Linked DNA regions of Homo sapiens. The protein of the gene in region 1 interacts with the protein of each later gene in a biochemical or structural test. Each region holds a gene or a part of one and is shown on either strand. Other genes may lie near its edges.

The links.
Region 2: the proteins of EGFR (region 1) and RASA1 form a complex in vitro, tested with the Homo sapiens proteins (4 studies listed by BioGRID and IntAct, with this or other methods).
Region 3: the proteins of EGFR (region 1) and GRB2 form a complex in vitro, tested with the Homo sapiens proteins (12 studies listed by BioGRID and IntAct, with this or other methods).
Region 4: the proteins of EGFR (region 1) and SHC3 form a complex in vitro, tested with the Homo sapiens proteins (4 studies listed by BioGRID and IntAct, with this or other methods).

The regions. Positions count from the first base shown.
Region 1 is NC_000007.14:55,154,621-55,162,046, reverse strand, and holds part of EGFR (epidermal growth factor receptor isoform a precursor), read right to left. Parts: intron 6,218-7,426; coding exon 6,101-6,217; intron 5,515-6,100; coding exon 5,388-5,514; intron 5,289-5,387; coding exon 5,215-5,288; coding exon of another isoform or gene 5,204-5,214; exon of another isoform or gene 5,108-5,203; intron 4,385-5,107; coding exon 4,294-4,384; intron 1,909-4,293; coding exon 1,709-1,908; intron 549-1,708; coding exon 416-548; intron 1-415. UniProt on the Homo sapiens protein: Receptor tyrosine kinase binding ligands of the EGF family and activating several signaling cascades to convert extracellular cues into appropriate cellular responses.
Region 2 is NC_000005.10:87,270,849-87,278,274, forward strand, and holds part of RASA1 (ras GTPase-activating protein 1), read left to right. Parts: intron 1-7,426. UniProt on the Homo sapiens protein: Inhibitory regulator of the Ras-cyclic AMP pathway. Stimulates the GTPase of normal but not oncogenic Ras p21; this stimulation may be further increased in the presence of NCK1.
Region 3 is NC_000017.11:75,395,253-75,402,678, reverse strand, and holds part of GRB2 (growth factor receptor-bound protein 2), read left to right. Parts: intron 1-7,266; exon of another isoform or gene 7,267-7,426. UniProt on the Homo sapiens protein: Non-enzymatic adapter protein that plays a pivotal role in precisely regulated signaling cascades from cell surface receptors to cellular responses, including signaling transduction and gene expression.
Region 4 is NC_000009.12:89,175,508-89,183,235, forward strand, and holds the start of SHC3 (SHC-transforming protein 3), read right to left. Parts: upstream 3,312-7,728; 5' UTR 2,954-3,311; coding exon 2,480-2,953; intron 1-2,479. UniProt on the Homo sapiens protein: Signaling adapter that couples activated growth factor receptors to signaling pathway in neurons. Involved in the signal transduction pathways of neurotrophin-activated Trk receptors in cortical neurons.

The DNA.
Region 1 (7,426 bases):
AACTTGGCAATATAATTTGTGTTAATTTATTTTCACACACCAGGAATCGGGCACTACAAAGAAAAGCCCAAATGGCCACGGTGTTGGCTAGATGAACCATTGATGACTGTCTCATTTGTCTTAGGAACTTTTTGTAGCTTAGAAAAATTTAAGATACTTCCAGGAAAAGAGATTCTATAAATTATTGGATTATATTAGGCAATAATACTTGCTTATTTCCTATTGTGCTTAAATTTGCCAAAAATAACGCAATCAAACAACTTCCCGTCTCCCCACAGAAAACCCAAAACCTCCAAAAGCCAAGGGCAAAGAATAAAAGGAAGAGAAAATCAAACAGAATGCCTGTAAAGCTATAACAACAACCTGGAGCCTTATTTTTGATCAACGCAAGGGGATTAAAGAAATAACCTCCTACCCCTCCAGAAGGTTGCACTTGTCCACGCATTCCCTGCCTCGGCTGACATTCCGGCAAGAGACGCAGTCCCTGGGCTCCGGGCCCCAGCAGCCCTCGGGGGAGCACAAGGCATGGCAGACCTGGCCTGTGGCCTCTGCGGAGACAGAGTGGGTCACAGCAGTCAGTGACAGAGCAGGGACCCGAGGGGCCGGAGGAGACGGCACCTTCCCGGGAGGGGCCCTGTGCTCCATGACCTTGGGTGACACAGACATGCTGGCTACCCCTGAAGGAGGAGGACACAGACTGGGCTTCCCAGAGGCCGACCGTGACTGGAAGGACAAAGTAGTTGTGCTGGCTGCTGGGAAGACTGAAATGTGCCTGACAGTGGAGGACAGGTCTTCCTCCTGGTGGGAGCCAGGCACCCTGGCACCCGAGAGGGGGTGCCGTGAGTCCTCCCCTTTGGCAATGGCATCAATTAAACCAGATGGGACTCCATGTTTTCTGTGCTCCCACGGCCACTGCCCCTGCTGAAGGAACCAGGTGTGCAGAGGAGCAGGTGCTGCTGGGCACAGGGTGTGTTTTGATGGTACCCAGGGCAGCCTGGAGCAGAGCTGGTGGTGTTCTGATGACAAATCCCACAGCTGATAGGAGCCATTGGGCCATTGGCTGTGTGCTGTGTGCTAGGCACCATGGAAGGGTTTTACACACAGGAATTTCACTGAATTCTCTCAAAGCACTACGGCGTAGGAATCATTCATATCTCCATTCTATGGATGAGGAAGCCAAAGCCTAAACAGATTAAGGGAATTGACAGAGGCTCAAAGCTAGGGAGGCCAGACCAGCACTTGACTCAAAGCTGACGCTGCCCGTGGCCAAGGCCCAGCACAGGCCAGGCTCTCACCAGCTTCAAAAGCTGAGGCTCTAGAGCCAGAACAGGAAGTGTTGATGTAAAGTGCTCATTCCATTCCTCTGTGTGTGTATGTGTGTAGCTGTAGTCTTTACAGGCTGAAATGAGCAGAGAGTGACCTACAACTAAAAGGTAATATAACTAATACTAAATTTAGTTACTTACATTACAAATAATTGGTAGCCTAAACCTCAGGGTAAATTCATCCCATTGAATGGTAATGATCTGGAAAAAGTTTTAATGGAATTCACATGGTAATTTCACAGTTAGGAATCTTAAGATTTTAATTTGCTTCTTAAGGAACTGAAAAAAGTAATTTAAATGGGAATAGCCCTTCAATATTCTAAATACAAATAAAGGACCCATTAGAACCAACTCCATAAACTAAACAGAAAGCGGTGACTTACTGCAGCTGTTTTCACCTCTGTTGCTTATAATTTTGGTTTTCTGACCGGAGGTCCCAAACAGTTTTTTCCAGTTTATTGTATTTGCATAGCACAAATTTTTGTTTCCTGAAATTATCACATCTCCATCACTTATCTCCTTGAGGGAGCGTAATCCCAAGGATGTTATGTTCAGGCTGACGACTGCAAGAGAAAACTGACCACTACATTGGAGAGAAGAAAAATCATGTGGTGAAAAATTATAAAAACAATGTATCCCTGAAAACTTTGTTTCTCCAGACCACCTTTGATTGACTACAAACTGCTTTCCAATGATGGTAGGTCATGCTGTGGGAGGCACACACTGCACCTTTTGAAAACTGCAGGTGTTTTTAAAGTTCCTCCAGGCAAAAGATAGTTCCTTGTTTATTTAGTATCTTTAACCCAGTGGCAGATGGGGAGGATGAATAAAATGCCTTAATGTCATTATATTTTCTCCATTTTCATTTTGCCTGGAAATTGAGAACATATTCTAACCTCTCAAACAGCCAAATACACTTCAAAGGTGTGGGTTCATCCATCTATCCACCACCCAACCTGTCCCTCTATCCATTCATATATTTATTGAACAAACACTAGAGGTTCTCTGTCCCAAATTCTGTGCAGGTTAAATATGTTTCCTCCTCTCCAGGACGCTTGATCTGGTGGTGACACAACCCCGTAAGCAGATCATTTTGAGCCGGTGTGAAGAGCACAGTGAGTGTGGGCAACATGGAAGCAAAGAGCAGGGGCCTCTGACCAGGTCTGGGAGGGATGCCTGGGAAGTGGGGCCTTCCTCCAAAAAGCTATGCCCAAGGTTGTGAGGCCCTGAAAGCAGTAACTGTGGCATTTTCTTCACCATCCAACATGACACTAGGATGCTATTGGGTGGTCCAATGTGTATATCAGATGACTGGATGGAAGTCATTCAGACCGAAGGGGGGATGTCCTCAGCCACCTGGAGGAGCAGGAAAGCACGCGGTGGACATGAGAACCACTAGCCCCAGCCAGACCACGATGGGTGTGAGAACCACTAGCCCCTCCTGAACCACGATGGGTATAAGAACCACTAAGCCCCTGCCGGACCACGATGGGTGTGAGAACCACCAGCCTCTGCCAGACCACGATGGGTGTGAGAACCTCTAGCCCCTACAGGACCACGATGATGCAGGCTGGGAGGGCTGGGCTGGTTTGGGGAGGGAGCACAAGGCCAGAGTGCACCTTGTGGAGGAGCTGTCTGTAATTGAGAAGGAGCCACAGGAAAGAGATCTGCATTTGCAGGAAGCTCTCATCTGACCCCAGGCTGGGGGCTGGGCCAGCTGAGAGCACTGGATGAAGAGACTGATGTTCAGGTGTTGGATGGCAGGGGGTTAGAGTATCATCCAGAGGCTTCTCCTCTCCCTGCTGCTCTTCTTTCCCCCATCTTTTTCCTTTCTCCTACACAGATGAGTGGTCTCGCATAGGAGCCTGTAACCAATACCATTAGGAATTCTCCCCCACATATGCCCAGGGAGGCCAGGACACCAGGGCAGAGCCAGGTTTTCCTTGCAGGGCAGGTCTGGGGCCTCAGTGAGTCACACCCTGGAACGTGTGGCCACCCTGTCTCAGTAGGAGCTGGAATCACCAGACTTCTCATTAAATGTGAAAAGTAAGTAACCCTTATCTTGTTTAAATCCCTACAACTAAGCCAACTGGCTCATACCAGCCATCCAAGAAAATTGCTCTAAATCTCTTATTTTTATAAGAATCTTGGTCAAAGAAAGCATTCCAGAGAATTCAGAGCAAAAAGGCCTTTCTGGGAAGCAACGGTAGCCACATATTTAGTATCAGAGATTCAGAGCCAAGGGAGTTTATGGGAGGCAATGCATATTTCACGCACTCTTATTCTCTTTAATGTTGCACAGTATTATCTAGTGCTTTAAGAGTCAAGTAGGGGCAGCAGTTCTCATAACGAGGCTGCTTCCAAGGCGGGTTTCACTAAGAGATTCCCATCTCCTCCTCCACACCACTAAACTGATGATTACCATTACCATATTAAAGATGCTTGTGTGTGAGCACCTGCATGTCTATTCCACTGTCAAAGCTGAAAAAGTGGAAATTCTTGAAGAGTGGTGCTAAAAAGTCTCTCTGGTCCCTGTGATAAGATGTGCATAACCTCAATTGCATCCTGAGAAAACACCAGCTGAACAGACATGGTTAGACAGTGTGCAAAGTACCTGACCCACACGTTTTGTAAGTGTCAAGGCCGTGAAAGACAAGGAAAGACACAGGAGCTAATATAGGTTAGAAATGGACTGAAAAGATTTGACAACTAAGTGCAATGTGGGATCTGGAGTGGACACAGAAGCAGAAGCACTGGCGAGCGCTGAGAAGTCTGTGGTTTAGCGGACAGCCTGTGCCAGTGGTCGTGCAGTCTTGCTCCCTGTGCCTGCTCATGTGAGATAGCATTTGGGAATGCCGGCGAGAGATGCAGGAGCTCTGTGCCCTATCTTAGCAACTCTCCTGTTAAGCCTAATTTCCAACTAAAAAGGCAAATGTAATCTACCAGGCTTTGGCTGTGGTCAACTTACTGTTGCTTGGTCCTGCCGCGTATGATTTCTAGGTTCTCAAAGGCATGGAGGTCCGTCCTGTTTTCAGGCCAAGCCTGAATCAGCAAAAACCCTGTAAGGCAGATGAAAGACTTCAGACACACACCACGTAGGAGTTTCTTTTTTGTATGAGACATTACTCTAGACTCTCAGGGACTCTGTATTATATGAACAGTAAGTGGGAAAATTGGATTTGCTTTCTTTTTCATTATCATCTTCTCTGAGTGTACATGCGCAGGGCGGACGCAGGCCGAGCCACAGTTCACAGCTGCCTCCCGCCTTCCGCTGCGATTCCGCATGTCTCCCGCCGCCCCCCTGGCTGTGGCCCTGAGACCCCTGCTGCGCCGCGTATCTGATTACCCCGAAGAGGCTCCTGCTGCGATTATCTGCCAATTGTGGATCTGGTATCACATACAAGGAGCTTTACAAATTTTCCTTATTTGATTCCAACCTTAAAACAGTCTTGTTATTTTGGTCTAATCTTCCCATTTTAGAGAGGAAGGAAGCGGAGCTCAGGCGGCAGTCATAGACCCGAGGCTTGCCCGTGGCCCCACAAGGCTCTGGCGTCCAGTTTCAAAAGCCTGAGGCCCAGGCTGCCTGTCACCTACCCCTGTCCCCTCCCTCTACCCTCAGGGGTTATGGGCCACCAAGGCAGCTGGCTGGGGCCGGGCGGGAGGGAGAAAGCGTGTTTACACCGCAGTGAATGACCCAAGCCTGGACTTAACGTGTCCCCTTTTGCCTGCAGGAGAAACTGCACTTTTGAAAAATATCAAAACATCAGCCATTAACGGTAAAATTTCAGAAGAAATGTTTTTATTCCAAGGGAACAGGAAATATGTCGAAAAGTTCTCTCTCTAAAACACTGATTTCCCATTTATATTCATGTGATAATTCAGCTCAAACCTGTGATTTCCTTTACGGTTTTCAGAATATCCAGTTCCTGTGGATCCAGAGGAGGAGTATGTGTGAAGGAGTCACTGAAACAAACAACAGGGTGATTATTGATCACCAATCTCTACCAGTTAAAAAGGCAGATTTTGTTTTTCTTTATACAAGCAACTGAACCTGTGACTCACCCCCTAAATGCCACCGGCAGGATGTGGAGATCGCCACTGATGGAGGTGCAGTTTTTGAAGTGTTTAATATTCGTAGCATTTATGGAGAGTGAGTCTTTAAATTCACCAATACCTATTCCGTTACACACTGCAGAGATAAGAGAGACGTGTATTCCGTTCACATTTGTTGGATTAAGAATAGCTAGGGATCCACAGGCAGAGGGAAGCAGGAAGGAATTCCGGTCACCGGAACCGCCACTGCCACATCATCCTTCATTCACTCAACAAACACTGAAGGGGCTGGGGAGAGTGCAGGCGGGAAGGGGGGACACCAGGACCTATAGTACACTTTGGGGCTACGGCGGTGTAGGAGATGCCATCCCTGTCACCTCACACTGACCTTGCGTTCTCCTCATTATTTCCCATGGGCCGCTTGGAGCTGCACTGCTTCCAGCTCTGCCTTCCCTGGATTCTCCCCAGGGCTGGGCACCTGGCAGCTGCTGAGCGGGGCTGGCTCTGTGACTGTTCTCATCAGAGCCCCCCACCCCGTCACAACCTTCAGTGCCTTCCCATTGCCTAACCTAGCTTTACAGCTTTATCTTCTGTTTTAAAGAAACGATATGTATAGTTGTTTTTTAATGAGAAGAGGAAGATGTGTTCCTTTGGAGGTGGCATGAGAGCCCAGCCTCAGCAGCCGAGAACAAGCCTCGTCCGCACACCGGCGGGCTTCCTACCTTTGCGGCAAGGCCCTTCGCACTTCTTACACTTGCGGACGCCGTCTTCCTCCATCTCATAGCTGTCGGCCCCACAGGCTCGGACGCACGAGCCGTGATCTGTCACCACATAATTACCTGGGGAAGAGAGCATGAAAGGAAGGTGATGACGGTGGCACCAGGTGCTCGGGCCTCACACAGGCGGTCCAGGTCCTCTTGAGGGGTGATGGAAAGGCTCCATCCTCCTTTGGCTTTATTTACTTTAAGGACAAAGAATGAAAGGTTGCAAATAGAGAAGGAATCCCGTTCAAGAGTTTAATAACATTCTAGGCCGCAATGTGGACAATACAGGTGTTTCATCATGGCAGGAAACACTGGGTCCCTTGAGGGGCCAGCTGTTTTGCGTCCCAGCAGGCACCTCAGCCCTCTCCTCCACCTGCTCTCACCTTTAAAGTAATTCATTTGTATTAATAGCAGACTTCTGCGTTATTTTTAGGAGCTCTATGTCTTCCTTTTTTGTTTGTCTGAGATGGAGTCTTGCTCTGTCACCCAGGCTGGAGTGCAGTGGTGTGATCTCAGCTCACTGCAACCTCCGCCTCCTGGGTTAAAGCAATTCTCCTGCCTCAGCCTCCTGAGCGGCTGTGATTACAGGCGTGCGCCACCACGCCCGGCTAATTTTTGTATTTTTAGTAGAGACGAGGTTTCACCCTGTTGGCCAGGCTGGTCCCAAACTCCTGACCTCAGACAATCCAGCCCCTTCAGTCTCCCAAAGTGCTGGGATTAAAGGCATGAGCCAATGAGCCACTGTGCCTGGCCTGTTCCTGTTTTAAGTTCCCCAAGAAGATCCTCAAAAATATTTATAGGACATTGATGATTCTTCTGTGAACCATCTGCTCTTGGTATCTCAGGCTCGAAGTGTTTTCCTATGGATTTTAAAGCTCTGTTAAGCCCTATCTCAAAGATATATCTGTGTCATCACTGTGGCACATTTTTCTTTAGCTTTGTTTGTCATTTACCTTATAATGGCTTATTATTTTGTGTTTTTTTTTTCCATACGGAATGTAAAATTTTTCATGTACACAAATCTGGCAGGGTAAAATCTCCCCCTCATAATTGTTCTTTCAATTTTTTTTCTCAGTTAATCTCCCCTTCTAGAGATCAAGAGTGGCTTCTAAAACTCTTTCATTAGACAAAGTTTTGCTTTCTCTGTCAGGAATTATTTTATGTCACAATTTCCCTAAACCCTGGAGCCACCAGTACAAATGTAAGTACAAACAAGCAAAACTCAAACCCAAACCATTAAAACAAAACAAAATAAAAACAAAAACAAAACCTCTGCAATACTCC
Region 2 (7,426 bases), on another chromosome or scaffold:
ATATTCCTCAATAAAGGATTCAAGTCTTTCGTCAGAGTTTGGTTCATATTTTAATGTCTTTGTAATGCAGAGTCCCTGGGAGTATTCTGGGAGTGTTAATTCCAATTTTGCTGGGCGCGGTGGCTCACGCCTGTAATCCCAGCACTTCGGGAGGCCGAGGCGGGTGGATCACCTGAAGTCCGGAGTTTGAGACCAGCCTGACCGAGATGGAGAAACCCCGTCTCTACTAAAAATACGAAATTAGCCTGGCGTGGTGGCGGGTGCCTGTAATCCCAGCTTCTTAGGAGGCTGAGGCAGGAGAATCGCTTGAACCCGGGAGGCGAAGGTTGCAGTGAGCCGAGATCCTGCCATTGCACTCCAGCCTGGGCAATAAGAGCTTAACCCCGTCTCAAAACAAACAAACAAACAAAAAAACAATATTACAGCACTGCTTTTGAAAAAAATAGTTCAATTTTTATTAAATGCTAATAGCATGCTTGGTACAATGGTTATGAAAAACAATGCAACTTTTCATACTGAAAGAATCTAGTCTTATGCTAGTTTATAACTAAATTAGGTATATTTAGGATATTGTAGTTAAAAAAAACTGTTTTTAGTAGACTTCTTTTTTTTTTTTTTTTTTTTTTTTTTTTTTTTGAGAGATGGAGTTTCGCTGTTTCGCCCAGGCTGGAGTGAAGTGGCGTGTTTTCGGCTCACTGCAAGCTCCGCCCCGCCCCTCCCCGCCTTCAGGTTCAAGCGATTCTCCTGCCTCAGCCTCCTGAGTACCTAGGATTACAGGTGCCCGCAACCAGGCCTGGCTAATTTTCATATTTTTAGTAGAGACAGGGTTTTGCCATGTTGGCCAGGCTGGTCTCGAACTCTGACCTCAGGTGATCCACTTGCCTCCCGAAGTGCTGGGATTACAGGTGTGAGCCACCGCGCCTGGCCCAATAGACTGTTTTTTAGAGTAGTTTTAGGTTCTCAGCAAAATTGAGGGGAAAATACAGGGTGTTCCCATTAAATTTTTAGTAATAAACACGATTGGGCTGGGGGTGGTGCTTCACGCCTCTAATCCCAGCAATTTGGGAGGCCAAGGCGAGTGGATCACTTGAGGTCAGAGTTCGAGACTAGCTTGGCCAACACGGTGAAACCCCGTCTCTACTAAAAAAAAAAAATCAGCCGGTCGTGTTGGCGGGCGCCTGTAATCCCAGCTACTCTGGAGGTTGAGGCAGAATTGCTTGAACCAGGGAGGGGGCGGTTGCAGTGAGCCGAGATCTGCCGTTGCACTCTAGCCTGGGCAGCAAGAACGAAACCCTGTCTAAAAAAAAAAAAAACACCATGATTGAGTACTTATGAAAAATTGTGAGAAATTCATTGTGTGGGATTTTCACCATTACTACATGTATTTGGAAATAAAAATTGTATGACTATGTATATGAAACTTGTTCATGTTCTAAAAAATACCCTCCATTTATAATATGTTTTTAAAATTTGCCACTGAGAAGTACAAATTTCCTTCTTATTTCATCTTAGTTATCAACCCAGAGTCACTGGAGGCAATGCAGTGTAGTGGTTAAGCGTGCAGATTCTGAAGTTAGACAAGATTTGGGTTGGAATCCTGACTCTGCCACTTACTAGCTGGGTATTCTTGGAAAGGTCAGTTTCCCCATCCGTAAAATGGGGATAGGAATGGTACCTTCCTCATATGATTGTTTTTTTTTTTTTAAGATTTAATGAATACCTTGATGTATTCGTCACAGTACTTGGGCATAGTAAGTGTTCGATAAATACGTAGTCCCCTGTGCCCATAACTGTAATATTTTACTAGCACTAAATTGTCTACTAATTCTTTTGGTTAGAGAATCTCCCTTGTTAAATGACTATTTTACAGAATGTTTTGAACTCCAAATCAAGCCTACCACGATTAATTATATTAAGAATTTTATTTTAACTTTATAAGGGCTTCTAGCAGTAGGTTAAGCAATTTTAGAGGTGAAATTCAAGTGTTCTCTATAAATTCCTATTCCTGAATGTAGATATTCATATTTTTAAGTGGAAGGAAAAGCCTTAAAGACATTTTCAAATAATATTTATCTTTTGTAAAAGTATTGAAGAAATGTTGGACTAAATACTGACTATGAGTAACTGGTCCCCTTAGTTATGGATAGCATGGTATTAAGGGGGTTTAGGTCACAGGATTGAGTCCACAAGTGGCTTGTTACTCGAGTGTTCCATGGTCAGGAAGTTAGTTCAACTTTGTTCCCAGTTTTGTGCTATTGATCACAAAAGAGTCAAATGACAATATGTAGATACACCAGTGCAAATAAATTAACACTATTAATTAGTATTTTGTACCTTGTTTTTCTGTGTACGTGGTGAATCATTAGTCTCATTTTTATTACTGAGCATTTTCATTAGTTTGGTTGAGGCTGGAAATGTTTATGTAATTTGTACTATTTATTTGAATATTTTTGAAAGTTTTGAGAAAATTATAAAAATAAAAAAAATTCTTCCTCTCTATTTCTCTACTATAAAAGTTTCTATATCTAAAACTGTTAACAGATTTCTTTTTCGAGAGAGAAAAGGTTAAATTAAAGAAGTTTGTCACTAGTACTCCATAATTTTTTGGAGTTTCTTTTCATGGTTCTCATTTTTTTTCTTCTGCAGGGTGAGGGGCAGTGGTGGTAAAGGTATATTGTTTGTGTAGTGCACCATCAGTTATATGTAGAGATTTTTAACTGTGAGTCTGCAGTAGCAAGTGGCCATTGGTGAGAATCCAACCCACAGATATATACTGCTTGCCCTTAGAGTATTTGGAATATTTGATAATTGTCACCATTTAAGAATAGAGATTTCTTTTCTTTTTCTTTTTCTTTTTTTTTTTTTTTGAGATGGAGTCTTGCTCTGTTACCCAGGGTGGTGTGCAGTAGTGTGATCTTGGCTCACTGCAACCTCCGCCTCCCGGATTCAGGTGATTCTCCTGCCTCTGCCTCCCCAGTAGCCGGGGTTACAGGTACACACCACCATGCCTGGCTAATTTTTGTATTTTTAGTAGAGACGGGGTTTCACTCTGTTGGCCAGGCTGGTCTCGAACTCCTAACCTCAGGTGATCCGCCTGCCTTGGCCTCCCAAAGTGCTGGGATTACAGGCGTGAGCCACCTCGCGGCCAATAGGAAGATTTCATATTTAAGAAGTCTCAACTTCTAGCATCTCTAGAAAACCCACAGGACTTGGCTATACCTGGTGGCCATTCCTGCTTGAGACTAGATTGCCAGAGCTGAGTAGCGGTTGACCCTTTTAGGTGGGTACTGAGGTCTCCATTTGCAGTCTCCACCAGGTCTGCTTTGCCTTTGCTATTGCAGTATTTGCCTGGCATCTGGCCTGGATCTTATGCTGAACCTAATATTCAGACTTCTCAAGTCTGAAACTTTAAGGAAAAGAAAATAAGGAATGTAAATAGTACCTTTCTTTTTTAAAAAAATCATTTTACTGTCTCTACAAAAATAAAATCATTCTTATTAAGTCAAATAATTGGTGAAGGTTAATGTTAGAACATGTAGCATTCATTAACTTTGTCACTGATTGCATTATACATATGGGTGAGCCATTGTTTCTTAATAAAAATGGGGGTGAGACTTGCTAAGATTAGTTACGGACAATGATTGATGACCAGAACTCATATTTTTTACTGTATTTGTATAAGTAGCAGAGAAATATAGTAGGTGCTTCAAGGGTTGCAAGAGTAAAATGCCCCTTTTCTCAATGGGAGAAAAGGGAGTATTAGATCTAGTAGGAAATTAAGTAAACCAATTACTGTGATTCAGGCTAGGTTAAGATAAATATCACGAGTGAAGTATGAGCAAAGGTCATGAGGGTTAAAAGAAAAAGAAATTTGTGTAATTAGGATCAGTAAATTCTTTGAGGAAAAATAGCAGGTATGTTTTTCCTGCTACTTAATTTATTTTCTGAGCAAGAGGTTATTGGTTCTGATGCTCTTCGCTTAATGATTCTATCAGGAAAACATAATTATGAATTAGATGAGTTTAAACTTTTCACCCTTAGTGAAGAGTCTGGTCTACAGAACTTTTAGTTACCTGTGGTCTGGAGGGAAGTTGACGGTGATGTCTGTAGTGACTGAGGTACAGAGCACAGTTGAATGCTAGAATCGGTATGGATCATTGATTAGCCACTCTGGGGAAAACAGGCAAACATTACTGGCAAAGCTAAAAAGGACAGCCATAAATTAGGAAGGGAAAAGGAAAAACGAAGAGTAGACTTTCTGGTTGCTTTACTTCTCTCTCTTTACTGGCCATTGGTGAAATGAACAGAGTCCCTTTAAGAACACTTAAATACCCAGAAAAGTACCTTTTGGGAAGAAGATTTTTTATAGTGATTATTAACTATAACAATGGTTACCACTGACATTTTTTGTTGTTGTTGCTTACTGCCAAACAGGAACAGTTCTAATTGGTTTATTTGTATTGTTTTGGTTATCTATTGCTGCATAATAAAGCACTCCAAAACATAGTGGCTAAAACAATTGTGTATTTGCCCTTGATTCTAAAATTTGTGTATGGCTTTATGGTGACTTCTCCACATGTGATCTGTTGGCTATAATGTCCACTGTGGCTTCTTAACTCATAAATCTAGTGCCTCAACTGGGATGGCTGGAGCAGCTGGTAGATGGCTGGGCATTTCCCTCTCTCTTCCTACCCATGTCGTCTCTCCACTTGAAGAAGGTTGGCCTTCTTTTTTTTTTTCCCCCCTGAGATGGAGTCTTGCCCTGTCGCCCAGGCTGGAGTGCAGTGGTATGGCTCACTGCAACCTCCGCCTTCCGGGTTCAAGCATTTCTCCTGTCTCAGCCTCCCAAGTAGCTGGCATTACAGGTGCGTGCCACCACGTCCAGCTAATTTTTGTATTTTTCATGGAGATGGGGTTTCACCATGTTGGCCAGGCTGGTCTCGAACTCCTGACCTCGTGATCTGCCACCTTGGCCTCCCAAAGTGCTGCGATTACAGGCATGAGCCACTGTGCCCAGCCAGCTTGGCCTTCTTCATAGCATGGCAGCTATGGCAGTTCCGTGAAAGACCTTTCCAAGCCCTAGTGTGCCGGTATTTATCAAGCTTCTGTGTTCCTCATCCTTGCTAATGTTCCAATGGTGAGTGCTGGTCACATAACCCAGTGTGCATTAAATATGGGAGGGGACTATAAAATGGCATGAATACAGCAAGTTGAGCTTTCCTCAGGGCATCAAAGTAACAGTACCATGTGTATTACTTATTTTCATGTAATACGAGATAATAGAATACTAGTAGTGAGGGACAGGCTGGGAGATAGGACAAATACTTATGAGTTCTTCCTTCAGGCCCAGCAAGCTAAGTTGTCTTTTGTTAAATGAGTCAAATTTCTCCACAATAGATGTTGCTTTTTGGCTACCATTACCTTAATTTTAAACCAAAAATACTGAATACGGATGTTGTTTATTGTTTGAATATGCAGGTATTTCTGTGTTACCTTGAAATCACTGGCAGTACATTTCAGTTTTGTGCTGCGTTAAAAATTGTTGTTATTAGATACAACTTATTGATAACTATGTATGTCTTGTCACATCTCTACAGGATTTAGGGTATGATGATTTTAGGTGTTTTAGTGGTTATGTGATTTAGTGAGTAAAATAATGAACAGTATGGGGGACAAAAAGAAATATACAATTCTACAGTCTAGTTGGAAGATGAGGCATTACTGGTAGGGAAATAAGATGATAAAAGTAGTCTACAGATACGTTGTGCAGGTAAATTTTTCAAATTCAGAGGATAGTTGCCAAAGAGTGAAAGAATGAAAGTAAATGAAAGAATGATACTGAAATTTCATACCATAATTCTCTTGAAGGAAATTTCAGTATCATTCATTTAGGATTATTACAGTGAGAAAGTGTGATTAACTTTTGTAACATTTGTGTTTCAAATTGTAGTCAAGTTGTTATGTGTAACATAGAGTTTTAGTTACAGAGGGAAGCTTCTCTGCTTAGATACAGAAGTAGCCTTAGGTAGAGTGACTTGCTTCACTCCACCCTACACCCTAGCTAAGTTCATATAACTAGGTAGTGGTAGAACTGGGACAGAATCCGATTCTCATACTGTTTCACATATATTTAGATTTGAGTAATATTTATAATTCATTTTTTTTTAAATTTTAGAGAGGACTAGAAGCAAAGGCTCAGTATTTGCTAATCATTTGCTAGATGTCAGGTACTTTATATAGATTATCTTATTTAATTCTTACAATGATATAGTGAGAATGGGCATCATCCTCATTGTTGAGGAAACTGAGTGATAGAGCTGGAATTTTAATGTAAATACTATGCTTTTTATTTTGTCTTGCCCCTTTCCATTACGTAGAATGTACACACATATATGCACCCAGATAAAACTTAACGTACTTCAGGGCTGGCAGTAACTGGCATTTTGGACTTAATAGTTCCCCCCTGTCCCCCATAGTCATAGGTTGAAGCCTTAACCACCAATGTAACTGAATTTGGAGATACAGCCTTTAAAAGAGGTAATTAAGGTTAAATGAGGTCATAAGGGTGGCTGGTGAATCCTATAGGACGGGTACCTTTATAAGAAGAGGTACCAGGAGTATGAGTGCATCAAGAAAAGGTCATGTGAGGACATGGTGAGGAGGCCTTCATTTGTCAGCTAAGGAGAGAGGCCTGACCAGAAACCAAGCTTGCCAGCACTTTGATAGTTCAATTTCCAGCATGCAGAACTGTGAAAAAATAATTTCTGTTGTTTAAGCCACCCAGACTCTGGTATTTCGTCATAGCAGCCCAAACTGACTAATACATGGGTAACTCTACATCTTTAAAAATGGATTTGGATTATTTTGGAACAGATTAAATGCATGTCTGCTGCTTGAGAAATAAGGTCCTCATTCTTTTAATTTCTTTCACTGTGGGAGAGAAAATCTTGCCTTACTTTACCTCTTTCTTTGTTAGTCAGTGACCTTTATCTTTTTTGATTGTACCTCTGTTGAAAGATGGAAAGCATATTTAAATGCATGTCTGATTATTATAGTGTGGAAAGATCCTACACATGACCATGGTAGCCATGGAATATCCTATGGATAAGCTGTTACTCCAGCAAATTTTCTGTATTCAATGTGTGTTCATTGTTGTAACATTTTACTTTAAAAATTTCGCTAATACATCTGTCTCAAGCTAAGGGAAAGACTTAGAGATCTCCCTCACCTCTTTTAAGTGTTTTTTGTAGGAATAACTTGCTAAACTGGGTTCATATTAGACACTTGTGTAACGATAGACCGTATCTCACCTATATTCTTTTCTATCTAAATGTTGATTCATTTCTCTAATTTTTAAATCTTTTTATTTTGAGGTAATTGTAGATTCATATGCAGTTTTAAGAAATAAGACAGATGGGCCGGGCGC
Region 3 (7,426 bases), on another chromosome or scaffold:
CATAAAAATCACTGGGAGATCTTTTTAAAATTAGGTTCTGGTAGAACTCCAGGATGTACCCCACAGTGAATCAGTCTCTGAATGGGTGGATTTTGATACAGATGGTCTAAGGATCAAAACTGTTGTTACCAAATGCAGCCATAAATAATAAGACTGCTGTGTGGCTTTAAGTAATTCAACTTAAAATTACATTTTTCTGTGTATACACAAAGTCAGTATTTAGAATAGCCTAATGGAATGAGTGACTATAAGCATGATTCATTTTTACATGTGTAAATTTTTTAGCATTCTTAATACTGTGATGTGGAGTGATTTAACTTGAAATTTATACTTAATAGGGTCATTAATTTGCCTACCAGAGAATTCTTCTGAGTCTGTAGACTCAGACGAAAGATTTTTCAGCTTTACAGTGGTGTGAAAGCAATAGCGCTCAGTAAAAACTATACTTCCAGTACCCATATAACTGTTTTGTTTTTCACTCTCAGTACCATAGTCAGTAAATTACAGGAGATATTCATCACTTTGTTATAAAATGGGCTTTGTGTTAGATGATTTTGCTTAACTGTAGGCTAATGTGTTTGGAGCACATTTAAGGTAAGGTAGGCTAGGCTAAGCTGTGGTGTTTGGTAGGTTAGGTGTATTAAAATGCATTTCCATGTAACAATATTTTCAACTGATGATGGTTTCATCAGGATATCTGCCTATGCAGATGGAAGCTCCACATTTACTCTTAGAACATGTAGGCTAGTATTTGAAAAGAGACTGAAAATACTAGTTAAGGTCTCTGGCTTATACTACATTATAATAATAAAATCATCACAGCCCACACTATAGTGGATAATTAGTTAGCTCAGTCTTTTGGAGAGAGCCAGAGACTTCTGCCAAGCATTTTACAACCATTATCTCTTTTAATTATCAAAATGACTTTATAAGGTAGTTGGCTGTTATTATTCCCATTTTCCAGTTAAGGGATACTAGGGATTACAGAGTATAAGTTACTTCTCCAGTGTCCCCTCATTAGTAAGTGGAAAGTGACATTTGAATCCAAGTCTAACTCCAGAGCGTCAGTAAGCTTTTTGGTTTGTGTTGTAACTACAAAAGTAACACATGCCTATTGTAAAAATAATGAAAATACAATTGAGGTGTATCATGCAGAAAGTAAAAGTGTTCTGTGATCTCGCTAGCAGAGATAACCATTGTTAGCCTTTTTTTTTTTTTTTTTTTTTTGAGACGGAGTCTCGCTCTGTCGCCCAGGCCGGACTGCGGACTGCAGTGGCGCAATCTCGGCTCACTGCAAGCTCCGCTTCCCGGGTTCACGCCATTCTCCTGCCTCAGCCTCCCGAGTAGCTGGGACTACAGGCGCCCGCCACCGCGCCCGGCTAATTTTTTGTATTTTTAGTAGAGACGGGGTTTCACCTTGTTAGCCAGGATGGTCTCGATCTCCTGACCTCGTGATCCACCCGCCTCGGCCTCCCAAAGTGCTGGGATTACAGGCGTGAGCCACTGCGCCCGGCCTAGCCTTTTTTTTTAAGCACATACTGATGTATTATTTTGCCTTACAGAAATAGGATAAACTATAATTTTTCTGCAGCTTTAAAAATTTGAGGAGAATGGCTTGAACCCGGGAGGTGGAGGTTGCTTTGAGCAGAGATCATACCACTGCACTCTAGCCTGGGCGACAGAGCAAGACTCCGTCTCAAAAAAAAAAAAAAATTGATATATCCTGGTATTTATGTAGATACTCCATACACAAGCTCATGGATATTGATCAAGGGTGTGGGTGTATATGTGTATGTTGCACATTGTATTTTGTCTCATTGTTTCAGTGAGATAAATCTGGGAAGTGGAATTGCTTGGTCAAGAGTATGTATTGGTCAGGCACAGTAGCTCACGCCTGTCACCCTGGAACTTTGGGAGGCCGAGGTGGGCGGATCACTTGAGGTTGGAGACCAGCCTGGCCAACATGGTGAAACCTCGTCTTTATTTGAAAATACAAACATTAAAAACACACACAAACACACAAAAAAAGAAAATTCAAAAATTAGGTGGTGGTGACACGCCTGGAATCCCAGCTACTTGGGAGGCTGAGGCAAGGAGAATCGCTTGAACGCAGGAGGTGGAGGTTACAGTGAGATGAGATCACACCACTGCATTCCAGCCTGGGCAACAGAGCGAGACTCTGTCTCAGAAAGAAAAAAGGAGCATGAGGCTGGGTATGGTGGTATGCATGTAATCCCAGCACTTTGGGAGGCCAAGGCTGGTGGATTGCCTGAAGTCAGGAGTTTGAGACCAGCCTGGCCAACCTAGTGAAAGCCCATCTCTACTAACAGTACAAAAATTAGCCAGGCATGGTGGTGCACGCCTATAGTCCCAGTTACTTGGGAGGCTGAGGCAGGGGAATTGCTGGAACTCAGGAGGCGGAGATTGCAGTGAGCTGAGATCGTGCCATTGCACTTCAGCCTGGGTGACAGAGCAAGACTCCATCTCAAAAAAAGGAGTATGTATTTACAAAAATTAGCCAGGTGTGGTGGCACACACCTGTAGTCCCAGCTACTTGGGAAGCTGAGGCGGGAGGATGGCCTGAGCCTGGGAGGTCAAGGCTGCAGTGAGCCAAGATGGCACCCACTGCACTCCAGACTGGGTGACAGAGCAAGACCCTGTCTCAAAAAAAAAAAGAGTATGTATTAATATTTCAAAATTGTCGGTCAGGGCCGGGCACGGTGGCTCATGCCTGTAATCCCAGCACTTTGGGAGGCTGAGGCAGGCGGATCACGAGGTCAGGAGATCGAGACCATCCTGGCTAACATGGTGAAACCATGTCTCTACTAAAAATACAAAAAAATAAGCCGGGTGTGGTGGTGGGCACCTATAGTCCCAGCCACTCGGGAGGCTGAGGCAGGAGAATGGCATGAACCTGGGAGACGGAGCTTGCAGCGAGCCAAGATTGCGTCACTACACCAGCCTGGGCGACAGAGCGAGACTCTGTCTCAAAAAAATAAATAAATAATTGTTGGTCGGGCGCGGTGGCTCACGGCCTGTAATCCCAGCACTTTGGGAGGCCAAGGCGGGTGGATCACGAGGTCAGGAGTTCAAGACCAGCCTGACCAACATGGTGAAACCCTGCCTCTACTAAAAATACAAAAGTTAGTCAGTCGTGGTGGTGGGGGCATGTAATCCCAGCTACTTGGGAGGCTGAGGCAGGAGAATGGCTTGAATCCAGGAGACAGAGGTTGTGGTGAGCCAAGATCGTGCCACTGCATTCCAGCCTGGGTGACAAAGCGAGACTCCATCTCAAAAAAAAAAAAAAAAAAGAAAAGATTGTCAAGGCCAGGTGTGGTGGCTCACCCCTGTAATCCCAGCACTTGGAAAGGCTGAGATGGGGAGGATCACGTGAGTCCAGGAGTTTGAGATCAGCTTGGGCAACATGGTGAGTCCTGGTCACCACACACACACACACACAAAAATTAGCCAGGCATGGTGGTGTGCACCTGTAGTCCCAGCTACTTGGGAGGCTAAGGCAGGAGGATGGCTTGAGCCAAGGAGTTTGAGGCTGAAGTGAACCATGATTGCTCCACTGCACTTCAGCCTGGGCAATAGAGCGAGACTCTGTCTCAAATAATAAAAGTAAATAGGCTGGGCGCAGTGGCTCACGCCTGTAATCCCAGCACTTTGGGAGGGCAAAGTGGGCGGATCACCTGAGGTCGGGAGTTCAAGACCATCCTGGGCAACATGGCGAAATCCTGTCTCTATTAAAAATAGAAAAATCAGCTGGTCATGGTTACAGGCACCTGTAATCCCAGCTACTTGGGAGGCTGAGGCAGGAGAATCGCTTGAACCCAGGAGGTGGAGGTTGCAGTGAGCGGAGATCACGCCACTGCACTCCAGCCTGAGGGATAGAGCAAGACTCTGTCTCCAAAAAATAAATAAAAATAAATAAAAGTTGTCAATAGATTACCAAAGAACTCACCAAAAAGATTGAGCTGAGCTCATTAATTCCTTGCTGTAGTGTGGGTTCTGTGGTGATTTTATTATTATAATGTAACACCAAGCCACATTGTCAGTTAGTAACTTCTCAAAATGTTGAGTCAGTGGACACCGGGTAGGGTAAAAAGTCTTTGTGCCTGGTGCGGTGGCTCATACCTGTAATCCCAGCACTTTGGGAGGCCAAGGCAGGCAGATCTGTTGAGCTTAGGAGTTTGAGACCAGCCTGGGCAGCATAGGGAGACCCCATCTCTACAAAAAAAAATGAGTAGGCTATGGTGGCTGGTGCCTGTAGTCCCCACTAAGGAGGCTGAGGTGAGAGGATCCCTTGAGCCCAGGAGGCGGAGGTTGCAGTAAACCAAGATCACGCCACTGCCCTCCAGCCTTTGCTACAGAGTGAGACCCTTTCTGAAAAATAAATAAATAAATAAAAGTGTGTTTACTCAAAGTATTGCAGATTGGATTTTATAAATATTTTTAAAATTTGCCAATTAGTATATGAAAACTCTGATTGTTTTAATTTGCATTTCTTTTCATATGTTTTAAATAGAGTAACATTTAAAATTTCTTTTGAAGGCTGGGTGCAGTGGCTCATGCCTGTAATCCCAGCACTTTGGGAGGCTGAGGTGGGAGTTTGAGACCAGCCTGGCCAACATGGCGAAACCCCATCTCTACTAAAAATGCAAAAGTTAGCCAGGCTTGGTGGCGCGCACCTGTAGTCCCAGCTACTTGGGAGGTCGAGGCAGGAGAATTGCTTGATCCTAGGAGGCGGAGGTTGCAGTGACCTGAGATCGTGACACTGCAGTCCAGCCTGGGCGACAGAGCTAGATGCTGTCTCAAAAAATAAATAAATAAATAAATAAATAAATAAATAAATAAATTTTGAGTGATTATTACATGTCGGGCTCTATCCAGAGCACTTAATGTATGTTATATATGTTGTCTAATTTAATCCTCAGTGGATCTTATAAGGTAGATATTCTCATTTTACAGATGAGAAAACTGGAGCTTGTTTCACAACTTTGCCCACAACTGTAGCTGTAAGTGTGAGGGGCCTGCCTCTAGAGACCATGAAGATTCAACACTAAGCTATACTGGACTGTTGTCATGTATTTTATTTTCTGTGAATTTTGGGAAGAAGAGAGTTAAATGGAAGAAAGAAAAAAAATCTTGCAAATACCTTTAGGATAGTAGTTTTTTTGGATACAGTAGACATTGTTTGAAATGAATGATTAAAGCTGTACTTACCTTTCTTAAAATTCACTGCTTGGGATGGGCTGGTAACAGTTTCGAGGTTACTCTCATTAGGCTTCAGTGTTAAGTACACTATACCCCATTTTCTTGGGAAGTGAACAGCAACATCTACTCTGTTAAAATCATTATACATTGTGTCTGCTTTCAGATTTCTTCCTTTTAGTAATTAGTGTTGTGTATGTGTTAGATTTTTTTTTGTCTTTACTGAAACACACCCTTTGGAATTCCTTTAGCGAATATGCTCTTTTGGGTGGATAACCTAATAAGCTTTCCTCTTTGAGTTTTCTGTTTTTTTACTCAGCACAGCCATGGAAGTAGGGATTTAATTTTCTGTCAAACTCTGCATCTCACAAAGCAATAGTTACTCAAAACACGACTTTCAAGAAGGTTATTCTTTTTAAGCTTTCAGCAGATGAGCTGAGTAGCAGCAGGAAAGCAGGTATTGAGAACTGTCTTGGTTTTTGTACTGCTGTTGAGTAGTAACATTGCAGCTGTCTTAAATCCTGAATGACACAGAAGCTTATGGCTGGTCGTACTACATAGCACCTTGAAAGTGACAGGGCTTTTCATTTCTATCTGATTTCTGTTTTTCAAAAATAAAACTCCTTATTCTTTTCCTATCATTGTAAATATTCTTCAGCTTCCTATCACTAATACATAGTCTCGGCATTAGAGACCAGTTAAAATAAATAGGCTGAGGAAAATCTTGATAGTAGGAGAGATTTTGGAGCATTCATTAAAAGTAAAAATAGGGCTGGGCGTGGTGGCTCACTCTCCCCTGTATTCCTAGCACTTTGGGAGGCCGAGGCAGGCAGATTGCTTGAGGCCAGGAGTTTGAGACCAGCCTGGGTCTTAAAAGGTAGATATTATTCTCATTTTACAGATGACGAAACTGGAGCTTGTTTGAAAAGTTTGCCCAAAATTGTAGCAGTTAGCGTGAGGGGCCTGCCTCTAGAGACCATGCAAATTCAACACTAAGCTATACTGGACTGGTCTCACATAGTGAGACCCTGTCTCTACAAAAAATAGAAAAAGTAGCCGGGCATAGTGGCCCACACCTGTAGTTCCAGCTACTTGGGAAGCTGAGGCATGAGGATTACTTGAGCCAAGGAGATCAAGGATGCAGTAAGCCATGACCATGCCACTGCACTCGTGCCTGGACAACAGTGCAAGACCCTGTCTCAAAAAAAAAGAGAAAAGAAAAAGTAAAAGTAGATACACAGGGAACTAGGCAAGTAAAAAATAGAACATTAAGCAGTTGCTAATGCTGGGAAAAATCTAAGGATTGTACAAAAAAGTATGATTGGGTCAGGCACAGCGGCCGATGCCTGTAATCCCAGCACTTGGGGAGGCCAAAGTGGGCGGATCACTTGAGGCCAGGAGTTCAAGACCAGCCTGGCCAACATGGTGAAATCCCGTCTCTACTAAAAATATAAAAAGTAGCCAGGCTTGTTGGCACATGCCTGTAGTCCCAGCTACAGGCCGAGGTAGGAGGATCGCTTGAACCTGGGAGGTGGAGGTTGCAATGAGCCGAGATCATGCCACTGCACTCTAGCCTGGGCAATCTTAGAGAACTCTATCTCAAAAAAGAAAAAAAAAAAAACACAAAAAGTATGATTGGTTTTAGTGCATTATTTAAATTATCAGTGAGTAGTATTTCATAACATACTACTGATTAAACCAGAATATGTGATATTACTGGTATAGGTCGGGGGAAACTAAATCTTCACCTTTCAGGCAATAGATAATGGCTGGAATAAACTGAGAAAGCAGTAAAAGCACATTCTTTAGAAATACTCTATCCATTTTGTGCATTGACCACAAGATTTAAAAAAAGAAAAATAAGTAAATACAAAGAGAAAGCAAAAAACAAAATCGAGAGTGATCGCCTGTGGGTGTTGGTAGGGAGCTGCTCTTTTTCATAAGCCTTTTAATACTCTGACTTTTAAAATTATGTACACGGATTAGTTTGATCAAAGTAACTACAGAGAGTGTAAGTGAAGGGCATTTAAGGATACACAAGTATAAATATTCGCAGATCAACCTCTGTATTTTTTAATATTTGCTGGGACTCTTTCTTTACTTTCCCTGTTACAGCCAGCGCCACATGGAATATCTTAGGTATGGCCTGAAGGAATAAACATTGGTTTGGTTTATTAGTTACCTGCAGCAGAATGTTTGGCTTTCAGAA
Region 4 (7,728 bases), on another chromosome or scaffold:
AGTTGAAATATTTTTGAATTATAATTCATATGTGCAATATCCTAATATCACCTGTAAGTAGGTATTTCTTTGAGGGGGAAAATCTATAATACAGTATATAAATTTTCCAGGAAACTAGAAAACATTTGGGGGCTTTATTTTTAATTTAGAAAAAAATTATATCAAAGAGAATAATGCATCCTTTCCCAAACCCTAAACCTTTATATTTTACTATTGGTATCTAGTCATATGATAAAGATGGCCCATTTCTATCTACCAGAAATCTTTTAAAGTAAGGATACCGGTAGAACTATTCAAAAATTCTAAATAACGCCAAATTAAGATTGTTTTCAGTTTAACAATTTTTCAATAAAATAAGTTCGAGGTTTTAAACTCAACATGGGCAATGCGGGAATTTGCACATGTGCGCCAACAGAGGGCCATGTGATAATTTGAATCAAACATGCACACACACTTTAGCATCTGGTTTTCTTTCTGCGTGATTTCAAACTTCTCCAGGACAGCAGAGGACAATGCCTGCGTTTATGTTCACATCACAGCACCATTCATGGCTGCTAATGAACAAGGAACCAAAACATGGATGGTACAGAGCCCTAATTAGTCATGCCATGCACCCCTCAACCCATCACTGCAACCCCTTAAATTTGAGGCAACACAAAGTAACCCCAAGACACAGACAAGCTCTGTGCAGATCCAGCCCTTTGACTATGAATACTACTGCTGATGCTGCCAGTAAGTCACAAACCTTACAGCAACAGATTGTCGACGCAGAGCCGTCTTATTTTCGTACATTCATCATTATTTTGCCACATTTGACCTTTCAAACTTGATGCTGGCCTTCCTTCTTTAAAAAGCAAAAGCAAAGTTCTAAGCAAAGTGATTAAAACAAAAATTTAAAGCCATAAGTTTGAGAATTCTCCCTCAATTTGAAAACTACTCTGTTTAATATGACAGGTAGAAAAAGCTTTGCCAAGGTCTATTTGTCTATTTGAAATGTAGGCTTTTTAAAACAGCAATTATGCTAACACCCCAGAAGTAAACACAACCTCAAAGCTGTCAGGGATTTTTGGTTTGGTTTGTTTTTTTCTTTTTGTTTTGGCCCCTGGTTATATAATTTAAATAAGCAAAACAAGAAGAATATTCAGTACCTCTTAAAATAAACTCAACCAAATATGCATATATTATGCTCATCTATACCCCTTTGGTAAAATATAATAATCCATAGTTTGAAGGTTAAATTAAAAAGCAGACTGAAAAGGTGAAGAAGCCCTCTTTTAACAACAATGGCCACATTCATCTGTAAGTACTTTTTATATAGTTAAAGGCAATCCACAAAGTTAAGTATTTCTGTTAATATTTTGGTTCCGAAATTACCAGACACTGCATTTTACCTGAGGATGTGTTCTATTTAATTTTTACACTGGAATCTGCAGCCAATATTTACGGAACAGACATCCTGGGGGTTTCTCAGTGTTATTGAGGACACGGTGGGGATAGAGTTTGTGTCTCATTTCTTTCTCAATACAAAGCCATGCCTTGGAGTGGCAGGATTGAAATACTGCAACTTCCATCCTTAACCCCTGTCTGCTCGGCTGTGGAGGCTGTTAAAGCTCTGAGCTGCCCAACCGGCAGAAGGAAATAACCGCGTGGCAGATTACTTGAACTGTGCTGAGCATTTTTCCTTAAATATCATAACATGCTTGCATAAGGGTGGAATTTTATTGACTACATCGTGATTTTATCATCTTTGTGTTGGAGGAAAAAACTCCTTTCCAGCCTGTGGCTCCAAGCGCAGCGCCCTAGTTCCCTTTTAGCACATTTAAATGGAAGACTACAGTCACCAGAAAAATAGTCCCAGAATTCTCATTCCGCTGCTGTAAACCAGAACCTTTCCTTAGGGAATGAAAGACAAACCCCAAGAAAACCTGGACTGGGTGAGAAAGTAAAGCCCGTCGAAGAGAAAGCAGCACAGCATTTGGCCTGCTCTGCAAGGAGCTGGGAATTCTTGCTGCGGGGGGCAACAAGATACCCACCCTCCCGCCGGGGAAGACACAGCAGGAGTAGGGCCGCCACTCCGTGCATCTCTCCTCCCGGGGGCTGCCCAGCTCTCCCCAGCGCGTTTCCTAGATACTAGGCAGGCCGGACCCCCGCTGCCCAGGGTTGGGCGCCCATGACACTGGTCAGACATCTGGTAAGCCAGGTGGCAAAGGCGTGCCAAAAAAGTGGAGCCTAGGGAAAACCGGGACGGAGCGGGCCACCCGAGTGGTAAACCTTTTCCCAATGGATGCGGGAAAAGCGCATTTGTAGTTCCCTCCTCACCGCTGTCAAGCGAGCTGATTGCTAAGGAGTGCGCATTTGCTTGCCTCTAACGTGACAGTCGCGGGAGCGCCCCGCACCCCGGGCTTCAGGGAATGAAGGAGTCTGCCCCGAACTGGCCCCAGAACCCCCAGCCCCCAGGGCGGCCCGCGCCCGCACCCACCTTGACCACGTAGGTGACTCCGGGCCCCAGCACCTGGTCGCTGGCGTGCGGCGCCCCCCGAGGGGGCCTGGGCAGCGGCTCGTCGCCGGGCCGGCCCTTCCTGGCGGCGCTCATGGCCGGGGCGCGGGGCGCCGAGGGCGCACTGCCGTCCGGGGCGGCCAGGCTGGGCGCGCTGCAGCTGCCCGAGAGCCGCGCGCCCGCCCGCTCCCGGGCGGCCGACGACAGGCCGCGGAGGCCCGAGCTGGAGAGTTTCAGGTGGGACACCTTGTGGAGCAGGTGGCCCAGGCTGCCGGGCCCATCGTCGGGCGCCTTGCGCAGCGCCTCGCCGGACACCAAGTAGGGAGCCGCCGCCGGGGTCGCGCGCGCCGCCGAAACCTTGCCTCCGCCGCCGCTCACCGACAGGCTGTGGAGAAGGTCATCGACCGATGTCACCGAGTCATTCCTGAAGCGGTTATACTTGGTGCGTGGAAGCATGCCCCTCCGTGGGCTCGCTGCATCCGCCCGGGCGCTGCTGGTGCCGGCCCCGGCGCGGGCTGCCGCGCATAGCAGGCGAGCCACTGTCCCCGGAGCGGGACGGAGAGTGGGGGCCCCGGGACAGCCTTCTGGAGAACGAGAGCAGAGCAAGAGGATGGTGCCCTCCCACCGTTAAAAGCCAGCACAGCGGCGGCCGCGCAGCCCCGGCCCGGGAGACCGCTGCTTGGGGTTGCACGTTTGCTTTGCAAAAGTCATAGTTGCCTCTGATGGAGCGCCCAGCTGCTTGGGGCTGCTCACAGCAAAAGCATGACTCACTCTGAGAGGAGACCCTTCTCAACAAAGGCTCGGTGAGCACTGCAAATCACTTCCTGTAGCAGAAGAAAAAAAAGGAAAAAAAGAAGAAAAAAACGACATCCACCCGCTGACAGCACACTATAGCCAATCAATTCTCAAATTTCCTTTTTCTACCTTCCCAGATATTTCCTTCCAACCTTTGATTTTTCACCTTCCCATCCCCCGCAATCTGCATTTGTGCCAAAGGTAAATCCAATCCAGTTCCTTCAAATCGTCAAATGAACTTTCTGAAACCCATTATTCTGTTAGGTTTTGCTCGTCCCTGCTCAGCCCATCTGTGTGAGCCTGTAAAAGTGTCTAACAGCGATGCGTTAAAATGTGACGAAGGCTTTTTAAGAATCAGATCTTCAGCGAATCCTGATGAATCTTGACTTGGAAGGCAGCAGGAATTTTTAAATAGAAAAAAACAAAAAGGATATTCACCCCCAGGTGACTGTAAAATACCAATTTCCTGGGTTTTGCTTTTTCTTTTCAAATTAACAGAGCAGCGATGACAAGTGTCTTTGTGGCAATGCAGTTCCTCAAAAAAAAAAAAAAAAAAAAATCTGCATATGAACTTCTGCACAGTGCCAATCAAGGGGTCTTCCCTGCTCATTTACAGCAGTCTTTCTCAGCCAGGGTTAAGTTGAATATCCACTTCCAAAAAAGAAGAGTGCTTCTTTCACGAGTGGCAACAGGCTCCAGAAATCCATTCCAAAAAAGGGGCTGCATTTGAAGCTTTAATCCTACTGAATGTGTTTAAGCTCTGGAAAAACGCCTAAGAAATGCTACAAATACATTTCAATGTTCCTTCAGTTGCTGCTTGCAACCCTGCAGTCAGGAAGGAAAAAATGCAGCTGTTCTTATTGCACATCAAATCCACAAGGAGGAAAATATGCCTTCTTTTCAGGAGTCAGGCTCGGGCTTGCAAGTAAAATGCACAGGCCTTCTTCCTCTCAGTTAGGAGAGCAAGGCTTTCGCTGTCCCCAGAGGTCTGCCCGAGACTGAAGCCCTCTGACTCTTGACCTCAGTGGGCTCTGCCAGGCTTCCTCATGCATTAGGATCACCTGCTCCACAGTGAAACACTCACTATCAAAGTTTTCCCGCAACTTCTGAGCAAGCGAATAAATTCAGCTCTAGCACACTCTCAGGTCACCCTGAGTCCTCTCACTCCCATGACCGAACATGTGGGGCACGTGAGGTCCTGAGTCTTGAACCCTGCTCTATGGAGCAGAGTTTAATGAGCGCCACTCATGGCGGGCGAGCGGGTGAGGCCAACCCCTAGGACGCAAGAGCGCAGAGGAGCCGCGGCGTCCCCGGTACAGGAAACGCGTCCCCACGGCTCGCCTCCTGTGCCGCAGCCCTAGCAGAACAGCTACACGGCACTCATTTGTTCCCTTTCCCTAGCTTGCATAGCAACAGCAATTGCACACCCCATAGATGATTTTGATGGTTATCAGAGTCCTCCCCAGATCTGTAGCGAAACAGCCCTATCATTCCCAAAGCGAGATCTTCATTAGATGCAGACAAAAACCGCAAAATGTGAATGAAATGCTGTTTGTGTGAATGAAAAGGCTAGCGAGCGAGCCAGCGTTTCTGTGAATGAAGCAGGGCCTTGCAGCCGGTGCCAGGCAATCCCCTGGGCTCCAGCGGCCTCAGCCAATGAGCGGCCGCCCCGATGACTCATTCAACAAAGGCTTGCTCAATAGTGGAAGATTCCATTTCAATCAAAGGCGGGATCTTTTATCCAACGGCAGTGTGGGAAAAAAAAAAAGAAAAAGAAAAAAAAACACCCAGCCGGATTACAAAGATACCGGGAGGAAGAGGCCAGCTGCTATGGAGAGGAAAAGCTAGTTTTACAAGGGAATTCAAGATCCCTTGGTCAGGTCTAAGTGTGAAGAGGGTCTCTCTTGGAGGTGAGCTGTGCCCCTAAACTTTCATTCAGCCGTTCATTTACATCAAGGAGCAACCATGAATGTGCCAGTCGTTCAGCTTTTATTATGAATGTACATTGAATGCACGTTCAAAACCTAGGTTCCTAGCCCTTGATTCTTTTTTTGTAAAAGGCATGTAGGACACCTGTACACGTTCTGAGGCTCCAGGGAGGAAAAAAAATCCAAAGCTATGTACTTAACGTTTAGCCAACAGGAGACTTTTATTTCTTTTATTATGAGGCCAGTGGAGGGAAATTGGTCATTTTAAAATATAAATAGCAACATAAATTTACTATATATGAAAAGATATATAATCAAAGACAGAAATTAATATTCCAAGAACACAGTAGTACGGTAAAACCTCACTTACCTGGAAAATAGTATCAACATTTTGGAACGTAGCAGAAAGATGGAAAAAGAAAAACCCGAAGGCCTCTCAGCATCAAAAGGAGGCTGTGCAGCCCACACAGAAGCTCACACACCCTACTCATGAGAAAACCCTTTGCCCTTTCTGGGGAGCTGTTCATGTTTATTTTAGACCCTGTACCAGAAAGCCCACATATCTTCTTGATCAACATAGAGACAGATGAGAGAGGAGACCACTGGGACAGAAAATGCTAAATGTAAATGAAATTTTCTGTTGCTGGCTTGCTTGATAGCCATGGAAGGAAGCAGGAAAAAAAAACTCCATTTTAAAGTCAGCCTTGAGATTCACCAAAGCCAGGCAGTCTGGGGCAATTTACAATGAGAGCCTTTCCAGTATGTTGTGGTTTTTCTTTTTTAAATCAATGCTTAAACACGTATTTGCTTTCTATGGCTGCCGTAACAAATGACCACAAAATCAATGGCTTAGAATAACACAATTTATTATCTTCCAGTTTGTAGGTAAGAAGTCCAAATGGGTCATGCTGGGATCCAGCATGGGTGTGGGCCGAGCTGGTTCCTCTGGAGGCTCTGAGGGAGAATCCACAAATTTCTGAGAAGGTGCCATGAGCTGGGCCCTGGGGAAAGTGGTTTTGCCTTCTGGAAGGCAGAAGATCTGAAATTAATGTTATAACCTAGTTAAGACTATGTGAATTTTGTAATATGTGTGAGATACAAAAACTTGACCAAAGGAGTGAGCTTGTCCTGAGGATGCGGAGGTGACCCCTGACCCCAGTGGAGGCATCCTCCAGGTGACTTCACAGGAGGAAACTGTGTGGGCAAGGGCTCCAGGCCTGAGCAGTCCAGAGTCTCCCAGAATCCCTGGTAGGTTGGTTGGGTTGGTGAGGAGGTCAGGAGGCTGGGCACTCATAAAGGCTTAGAGGGGTGATGAGGTTTGGATGTGTGTCCCCTCCAAATCTCATGTTGAAATGTGACCCTCAGTGTTGGAGGTGGGGCCTGGTGGGAGGTGACTGAATCATGGGGGTGGATCCCTCATGAATAGCTTAGCACCATTCCCTTGGTGATAAGTGAGTTCTTGCTCTGAGCTTACATGAGATTTGCTTGGATAAAAGAATATGGCGGCCTGGTGTGGTGGCTCATGCCTGTAATCCCAGCACTTTGGGAGGCCGAGGTGATGGATCACCTGAGGTCGGGAGTTCGAGACCAGCCTGGCCAACAGGTGAAACCCCATCTCTACTAAAAATACCAAAACTAGCCGGGCATGGTGGCAGGCCCCTGTAATCACAGCTACTCGGGGGGCTGAGGCAGGAGAATCGCTTGAACCCGGGACGAGGAGTTTGCAGTGAGCCGAGATCGCACCATCGCATTCCAGACTGGGCGAAAAGAGCAAGACTTTGTCTCAAAAACAATAAAAATAAAATAAAATAAAATAAAATAAAATAAAATAAAATAAAATAAAATAAAATAAAATAAAATAAAATAAATGTGGCGCCTCCCCTCTCACTCTCTTTATTGCTTCTGCTCATGCCATGTGACACTCCTGCTCCGCCTTCACCTCCTGCCACAATTAAGGCCCTCACCAGAAGCCAAGCAGATGCCAACACCATACTTCCTGTACAGTCTGCAGAACCATGAGCCAATTAAACCTCTTTTCTTTATAAATTACCCTCTGGCATTCCTTCTTAGCAATGCAAGAACAAATGGACACAAGGGGCTTGAGAGAGGGTCACATAGTCAGGTTTGCCTTTTATGGAGACCACTTTGATAGTGACTTGGGGTGGCTCTGGGAAGTTGAGAGGAGGTAGGAGACAACAGGACAAGTTAAAAAGAACAAGGGCTTGAATGAAAGCAAGAGCAGTGGAGCTGGAAAGAGAGGGATGGATTCAAGATAGCTGGGAAGGTAAAGGATCTGTCTCTGTGATGAGGAAGTGTAAGAGAGAGCGAGGCTGGGTAGGCTGTCTGCAGCTAGAAGCTAAGACAGAGTTTGGAATGCAAGATGCTTATTAGAGATCAAGCTCCACAGAAAGCAGGGGAGGCTGCAGGAGGGAGCAGAGGCAGAAGTGGGCTGTGACCCAGGCCCCACACACCTCGTCCTTCCAAGAGTTCTGGAGAAAGAGTGCCATC